2 linked regions of the Homo sapiens genome follow. The protein of the gene in region 1 interacts with the protein of each later gene in a pairwise test. Each region holds a gene or a part of one and is shown on either strand. Other genes may lie near its edges.

Evidence for each region.
Region 2: the proteins of ACADM (region 1) and PANK1 interact in a two-hybrid assay, tested with the Homo sapiens proteins (one large-scale study listed by BioGRID).

What each region holds. Positions count from the first base shown.
Region 1 is NC_000001.11:75,755,573-75,759,400, forward strand, and holds part of ACADM (medium-chain specific acyl-CoA dehydrogenase, mitochondrial isoform a precursor), read left to right. Parts: intron 1-3,828. UniProt on the Homo sapiens protein: Medium-chain specific acyl-CoA dehydrogenase is one of the acyl-CoA dehydrogenases that catalyze the first step of mitochondrial fatty acid beta-oxidation, an aerobic process breaking down fatty acids into acetyl-CoA and allowing the production of energy from fats.
Region 2 is NC_000010.11:89,582,341-89,586,423, reverse strand, and holds the end of PANK1 (pantothenate kinase 1), read left to right. Parts: intron 1-1,958; coding exon 1,959-2,018; 3' UTR 2,019-3,436; downstream 3,437-4,083.

The sequences.
Region 1 (3,828 bases):
AACAGAAAGGACATTCACACCAAAACCGCATCTGTACGTCACCATCACCAAAGACCAAAGGTAGATAAACCCACAAAGATGGGGAGAAACCAGAGCAGAAAAGCTGAAAATTCTACAAATCAAGAGTGCCTCTTCTCCTCCAAAGGAATGCAGCTCCTCGCCAGCAACGGAAGAAAGCTGGATGGAGAATGACGAGTTGAGAGAAGAAGGCTTCAGATGATTGGTAATAACAAACTTCTCCGAGCTAAAGGAGGATACTGGCAAACTGAATCCAGCAGCACATCAAAAAGCTTATCCACCACGATCAAGTCAGCTTTCTCCCTGGGATGCAAGGCTGATTCAACATACCTTGAATCAATAAATGTAATCCATCACATACAGAACCAACGACAAAAACTTATGATTATCTCAATAGATGCAGAAAAGGCCTTCAGCAAAATTCAACAGTTCTTCATGCTAAAAACTCAATAAACTAGGTATTGATGGAATGTATCTCAAAATAATAGCTATTTATGACAAACCCACAGCCAATATCATACTGAATGGGCAAAATCTGGAAGAATTCCCTTTGAAAACTGGCACAAGACAGGGATACCTTCTCTCACCACTCCTCTTCAACATAGTGTTGGAAGCTCTGGCCAGGGCAGTCAGGCAAGAGAAGGAAATAAAGGGTATTCAGTTAGGAAAAGAGGAAGTCAAATTGTCCCTGTTTGCACATGTCATGATTGTTTATTTAGAAAACCCCATCATATCATCCCAAAATCTCCTTAAGCAGATAAGCAACTTCAGCAAAGTCTCTGGATACAAAATCAATGTGCAAAAATCACAAGCATTCCTATACACCAACAACACACAGAGAGCCAAATCATGAGTGAACTCCCATTCACAATTGCTTCAAAGAGAATAAAATACCTAGGAATACAACTTACAAGGGATGTGAAGGACCTCTTCAAGGAGAACCACAAACCACCACTCAATGAAATAAAAGAGGACACAAACAAGTGGAAGAACATTCCATGCTCATGGGTAGGAAGAATCAATATCGTGAAAATGGCCATATTGCCCAAGGTAATTTATAGATTCAGTGCCATCCCCTTCAAGCTACCAATGACTTTCTTCACAGAATTGGAAAAAACTACTTTAAAGTTCATATGGAACCAAAAAAGCCCACATTGCCCAGACAATCCTAAGCCAAAACAACAAAGATGGATGCATCATGCTACCTGACTTCAAACTATACTACAAGGCTACAGTAACCAAAACAGCATGGTACTGGTACCAAAACAGATATATAGACAAATGGAACAGAATAGAGCCCTTGGAAATAATACCACATGTCTACAACCATCTGATCTTTGACAAACCTGACAAACACAAGAAATGGGGGAAGGATTCCCTATTTAATAAATGGTGCTGGGAAAACTGGCTAGCCATATGTAGAAAGCTGAAACTGGATCCCTTCCTTACCTTATATAAAAATTAATTCAAGATGGATTAAAGACTTAAATGTTAGACCTAAAACCATAAGAACCCTAGAAGAAAACCTAGGCAGTACCATTCAGGACATAGACATGGGCAAGGACTTCATGTCTAAAACACCAGAAGCAATGGAAACAAAAGCCAAAATTGACAATTGGGATCTAATTAAACTCAAGAGTTTCTGCACAGCAAAAGAAACTACCATCAGAGTGAACAGGCAACCTACAGAATGGGAGAAAATTTTTATAATCTACCCATCTGACAAAGGGCTAATATCCAGAATCTACAATGAACTCAAACAAATTTACAAGAAAAAAATCAACCCTATCAAAAAGTGGGTGAAGGATATGAACAGACACTTCTCAAAAGAAGACATTTATGCATCCAACAGACACATGAAAAAATGCTCATCATCACTGGCCATCAGAGAAATGCAAATCAAAACCACAATGAGATACCATCTCATATCATTTAGAATGGCAATCATTAAAAAGTCAGGAAACAACAGGTGCTGGAGAGGATGTGGAGAAATAGGAATACTTTTACACTGTTGGTGGGACTGTAAACTAGTTCAACCATTGTGGAAGACAGTGTGGCAATTTCTCAAGGATCTAGAACTAGAAATGCCATTTGACCCAGCAATCCCATTGCTGGGTATATACCCAAAGGATTATAAATCATGCTGCTATAAAGACTTCTATGACCAAAGATGTAGGAGGATTTCCCACCCACACCAAGCAACAGACACTAGCTGGGTATCCTCCAACTTAGTTCTGACACTACCTACCCAGAGATAGCATCAGATCCCACAGGCTTAGTCTCACAAGACTGCCCCTTCTTTTCCCCTAGTTGCAAGTCCTGGACTCCAGAACTTCTGGCTGACTGGCTTCAAGTTGGGGTTCCCATGACCTCATCTGTGAATTCCAGTAATTTGCTAAAGCAGCTCACAGAACTCAGGGAAACACATTTACCAGTTTATTAGGAAGGATATCTAATTTTTTTACTTTTTTTTTAATTATTATTTTTTTCATACAGAGTCTCCCTCTTGTTGCCCAGGCTGGAGTGTAATGGCGTAATCTTGGCTCACTGCAACCTCTGCCTCCTGGGTTCAATTGATTCTCCTCCCTCAGCCTCCCACATAGCTGGGATTACAGGCACCTGCCACCATGCCTGGCCTTTTTTTGTTTGTTTGTTTTTTAAGTAGAGACAGGGTTTCATCATGTTGGCCAGGCTGGTCTCAAACTCCTGACCTCAGGTGATCCACCCACCTTGGCGTCCCAAAGTGCTGGGATTACAGGTGTGAGCCACCACGCCCAGCCAGGAAGGATATTTTAAAGGATACAGATGAAGAGATGTGCAGGGTAAGGTATGAGGGAAGATGCATATGGCTTCCATGCTCTCCCTGGGAATCTCACCCTGTAGGAACCTCTGGAAGCTCTCCAAACCCTGTCCTCTTGAGAGGTGAAGCCAGCTGGACTTCCTGGGTCGAGTGGGGACTTGGAGGACTTGTCTGTCTAGCTAGATGATTGTAAACACACCAATCAGCACTCTGTAAAAATGCACTAATCAGCACTCTCTGTCTAGCTAAAGGATTGTAAACACACCAATCAGTGCTCTGTAAAAATGCACCAATCAGTGCTGTGTCTAGCTAAAGGATTGTAAACTCACCAATCAGCACTGTGTAAAAATGCACGAATCAGCGCTCTGTGTCTAGCTAAAGGATTGTAAATGCACCAGTCAGCACTCTGTAAAATGGACCAACCAGCACTCTGTAAAATGGACCAATCAGCAGGATATGGGTGGGGACAAATAAGGGAATAAAAACTGGCCACCCCAGCCTGCAGCGGCAACCTGCTTTGGTCCCTTTCCACGCTGTGGAAGCTTTGTTCTTTTGCTCTTCACAATAAATCTTGCTGCTGCTTACTCTTTGGGTCCACACCACCTTTAAGAGCTGTAACACTTGCCACGGAGGTCCGCGGCTTCATTCCTGAAGTCAGCAAGACCACGAACCCACTGGAAGGAAGAAACTCTGGACACATCTGAAGGAACAAACTCCAGACACACCATCTTTAAGAGCTGTAACACCGCGAAGGTCTGTGGCTTCATTCTTGAAGTCAGCAAGACCAAGAACCCACTGGAAGGAACCAACTCTGGACACACTCTTGGGTGTTCATGGAGGCTTCATTACATAGGCATGATTAATTAAACCATTGGTCATTGATGATTTAACTTGACTTGTAGCCCCTCTCCCCTCCCTGGAGGTTGTAGGGTTGGGGCTGAAACTCCCAACCCTCTAATCCTGCCATCGTCTTTCCAGTGACCAGCACCACGCTGAACCTAGCAGACAAA
Region 2 (4,083 bases), on another chromosome or scaffold:
CCAGAACCTCCACTCCCTACCCCCCACAGCCAGAATACCTGATTATTTATGGAGTTTCCATGTAAGGTTTTGTTTGAAAAAGAAAAAAACATCTCAGCCTTTAAAAAAAATAATGAAAAAGGAAAAAGAAAACTCCTGTTCTAGTCCAGATAGAGTTGCCATTTTTAGCAATAAAAAATACAGGGTGCCCAGTTATTTTATCTGCCATTTATCTGTGTCTTATCTGGTAACCATAAGTCCAGATCTTCTTGGCCTAATGCAGACAACAAAGCCTGGAAACTGTCAGGGATAAAAAGTCTTCTATAACATCAGGTGGGAAGTTAGGTGGTAAGATAGGAAATAAAAGCCAACATTTTGGGGAAACTCACTTCTGTAGGTAAAAATGTAGTCGCCTATATCACCCTGTACAATCCTAAGCCTCTGTGGACTCTGGCTTTGGTTTGTTACCCTATATCATAACTCAGTCTCTATGGCCAGTGAAAATGGAGTATTCTTGTAACCCTCATAATGTGTTCCTCAGAAAATTCTCTACATTCTTAAATTCCCTCTGGCTTACGCGGGCCTTACTAGAGAATATTATGGAGAGACAACTTTTGAGAAGCACGGGTATGGTGGCTTTCTGGTCACCTGCCCTGGCCTTAGGAGTCCTCACTAAATTTCTCATTCATTCAACTAATGTTACTGAACATCTCTTAAGAGAAGTCATCTAGCCAGGTAGTTAAGAACACTGCGTTTTACTGACTGTGAGATCTTAGACAATGACTCTGTCTCTCCATTTCTGTTTTAGCATTTGTAAAATGGGGCAATTATATTTGTCTCATAGAGTTATTGTGATGGGTAAATGAGTAAATCCATGTAAAGTGCTTAGAACAACTTCTAGCATTAGTGGGGCCTCAATAAATGTAAGCAGACAGCAGCAGCAGCAGCAGCAAAGATCCATCCACATCCTGCCACACTCACACCTACTGCTGCAGTTATAACTATTGAGTTCAGCAAGTGCCAGAAGAATGGAGCCTCCTGCCTTTTGGAAACAGATTGCTGTGGACTGATTATTTGTGCCGTGACCAACTTCAAATGTCTATGTTGAAATCCTAATCTACAAAGTGATGGTATTGGGAGGTGGCCTTTGGGAGGTGATTAAGTCATGAGGGCTGAGCCTTCATGAATGGGATTAGCATCCTTATAAAAAGGTCTAAGGGAGCTCCCTTGCCCCTTCCACCACGTAATCCAGCCATGTGAGATTACAATGTGAAGACAGCTATCTGTGAGGAATGGGTCCTCACCAGACACCTTGATTTTAGACTTCCCAGCCTCTAGAACTGTGAGAAACAAATTTCTATTGTTTATAAGCCACCCAGTCTAGGGTACTTTGTTATATATAGCAGCCTGAACAAACTAACACATAGTTCTCTAAAAATTTATATTTTTTAGTTCCTTTCATTTTCATAGACGTATGGTCTTTTATTTTACAGATGGGCAAAGTAAGGCTTGGACTAATTTAAGTGCCTTTGCAAGAGCTACTGAGGGAAGTTTAGGGTTTTCTCTCATGAAATATAGCTTTAAAGTCAGACAGATTTGGTATTGAGCCCTGGTACAAGACCTGTGACCCTGCAAGGGTAATTTACTTTATTACCTTCCATTTCTCATATGTGAAATAATAGTCAGTGTTTTGCCATGACAAAGATAAAGATGAAATAGTTATAATACTAACAACCCTGGCACACACTTAGCACACATGTACCAGACATAGTTCTAAGCATTTACATATGTGAATGTATTTAATATATATAAGTAGGTGTCCAATAAATTATAGTTGTTATTATTCTGCCATGTTTTGTGACACACAATTTAGGTTTTAAATTTCTCTTTTATCGATATTAGTGGCATTCCTAGAATTATTAAAAACAATACATATTTGGCTAAGGTTCAGAGATCATCGTTTTGTATTGTTTTCGTAGGGTTATTTTGGAGCCGTTGGGGCACTGTTGGAACTGTTCAAAATGACTGATGACAAGTAGAGACGAGCAGTGGAGGAAACAGCCTCCCAAAAGGACAGAGAACTAAAAAATTGCTGCTGGAGAAGGTGAAAGTCGCTTTGGGACGGAAGCCAAGCCATTATGGCAGATGAACCTGCTGGATTTGTAAATAATTTAAAATCCTTCCAGATGATCTTTTACTCTTAGGTTTTGAGCTAATGATTCAAAACGGGGGAATATAAAAGGTTTTTTTTCTGTATACTGTATTTTTTTAAAAAAATGGTGCAGCGTGGCCAAACCTACCAATTGTATGCATTAACTTTGAAAAGTTGTTTGATGTTTAAGAAGGACCTGATATGTAAGCGCTGGTCATTTTTCTTCTGGGGTTTACTGATCAGTGTGGTGATTTTAACTTCATTTAGTAATTACTCTAGGAGATTTTACCTTGACTTATATTTTTCATGACGTTTCATGATTTGCTGTTGGTTTCAAATGAAACTACAAATCTGGCATGTTTTACTGTGAACACTTTTGTTATTTGTTTTGTACCCTTTTTTGTCTTGTTTTTCTGTTTTAGTTGTCTTCTGAAAAAAGAGTCGTTCCCTCTGTTTCTGTCCTCAGATGATGTCCCTCCCCCTACCTGTAACCTTTCTTTGACATAATTGTTCATATCAATGAAGGTGCTGACCAGCTCAATACAAAGTTAAGCACAAGATCTAAAGCTCTTGAAAATGCCCGTGAAGAGAAGACTGAATGTGTTAATGAATTTAATGAGTCTGGCAAAAGTTGCAAATTATATGCAAGTTTGTCCTATCGCTTATAAATGTAGTGTTTCATTGGATTTATTTTATGCTAGGTTATATTAAGTTGAAATAGTCTGTGATTAAATGTCCTCATCCATGCACAGAATATGAATGGCAGCAAATCTTTGTGCAAGAAATTTGAAACTTATTGGGAAAAGCCTCCCAGTAGATTAATTGTTCATATCAGGAGATTTAGGGTAAGTCATGGGTTGAGGTGTCAGATAGTAATATCTATTTGTTTTGTACATGTATATATCTAGGAACTTTGTAACAACACATCTTTAATAATGTTAAAGGTTTTTTCATTTTTAATATTTTAAACTAAAAACTGTACTTCAATCTCAGTTTCTAAAATTAAAAATAATTTATACTGATCTATATATTTTTTCTTTTTGAAAGATTTCATTAAGACTGATGGGTAACTTTCAAATGAGGGTCATGTACAAATATTGGGATGCATGAGATCCCATGATCTTGTGTATTGAGCTTATTGTTGAAAGGGATTTTTGAAGGACAGAACAATTACTCCATGATGAATCTTCCTTTCTCTGCCTTCTGAGCACCGTCTTTAATTTCCATATCTTCAAGTCTTGAAGAAGTTGATGTTAATTGAAGAATTCACTTGTCTGGTTGAAATAAAGCCTGTTTCTGTTGTGATGTTTTTAGTGTATATGTTATTTTCATTTCTTAATTCTCATGTTTATAGTATCTGCTTTGTACCATGAAATGACTGTCTGTTGTGTTTTTGCTACTCTACATTTCAAAATTGGAGGCTTTCCCATGAGTGTGGTATGGTCCAAAACACTGTCTTCAGGTGAAGCTGTAGCCCTATGCATAGATTTTTAAAATAGAGCTTTATTGTTTCTATACAAGTGACTCCTTAATGCCAACTACCTCTGCTATATTTGGTAATTCCAAAGGAGTTTCAAAATTTGGTCATCACAGATACATTTTACCAACTTCTATCTGGCTTTAAAAAAATTCAGACAGCTAAAGTGTTCTTGAAAAGGATAAGTTAAAAATCTACATATTATTTATAATTAGTGCCTTTTGATGGCCTCTTCTATTCCTATTCTCATCTATCAGGTAACAGCAGACCTTGATTCCGCAGATCATGGTTCTACAAAGGAAATCAGGGCAAGTTAGTGTGACTGTATTTTTTTTAATTATCTGAAATCACTTGATCTCTCATTACAAACATTTAAAATATTGGTGTAGCTGAGAAAATACATTATTCCATTATACAAATATCAGTTAAATGTTGACTACATATAGCCAGCCTGTTTTTTACAAAAGAGATCTTG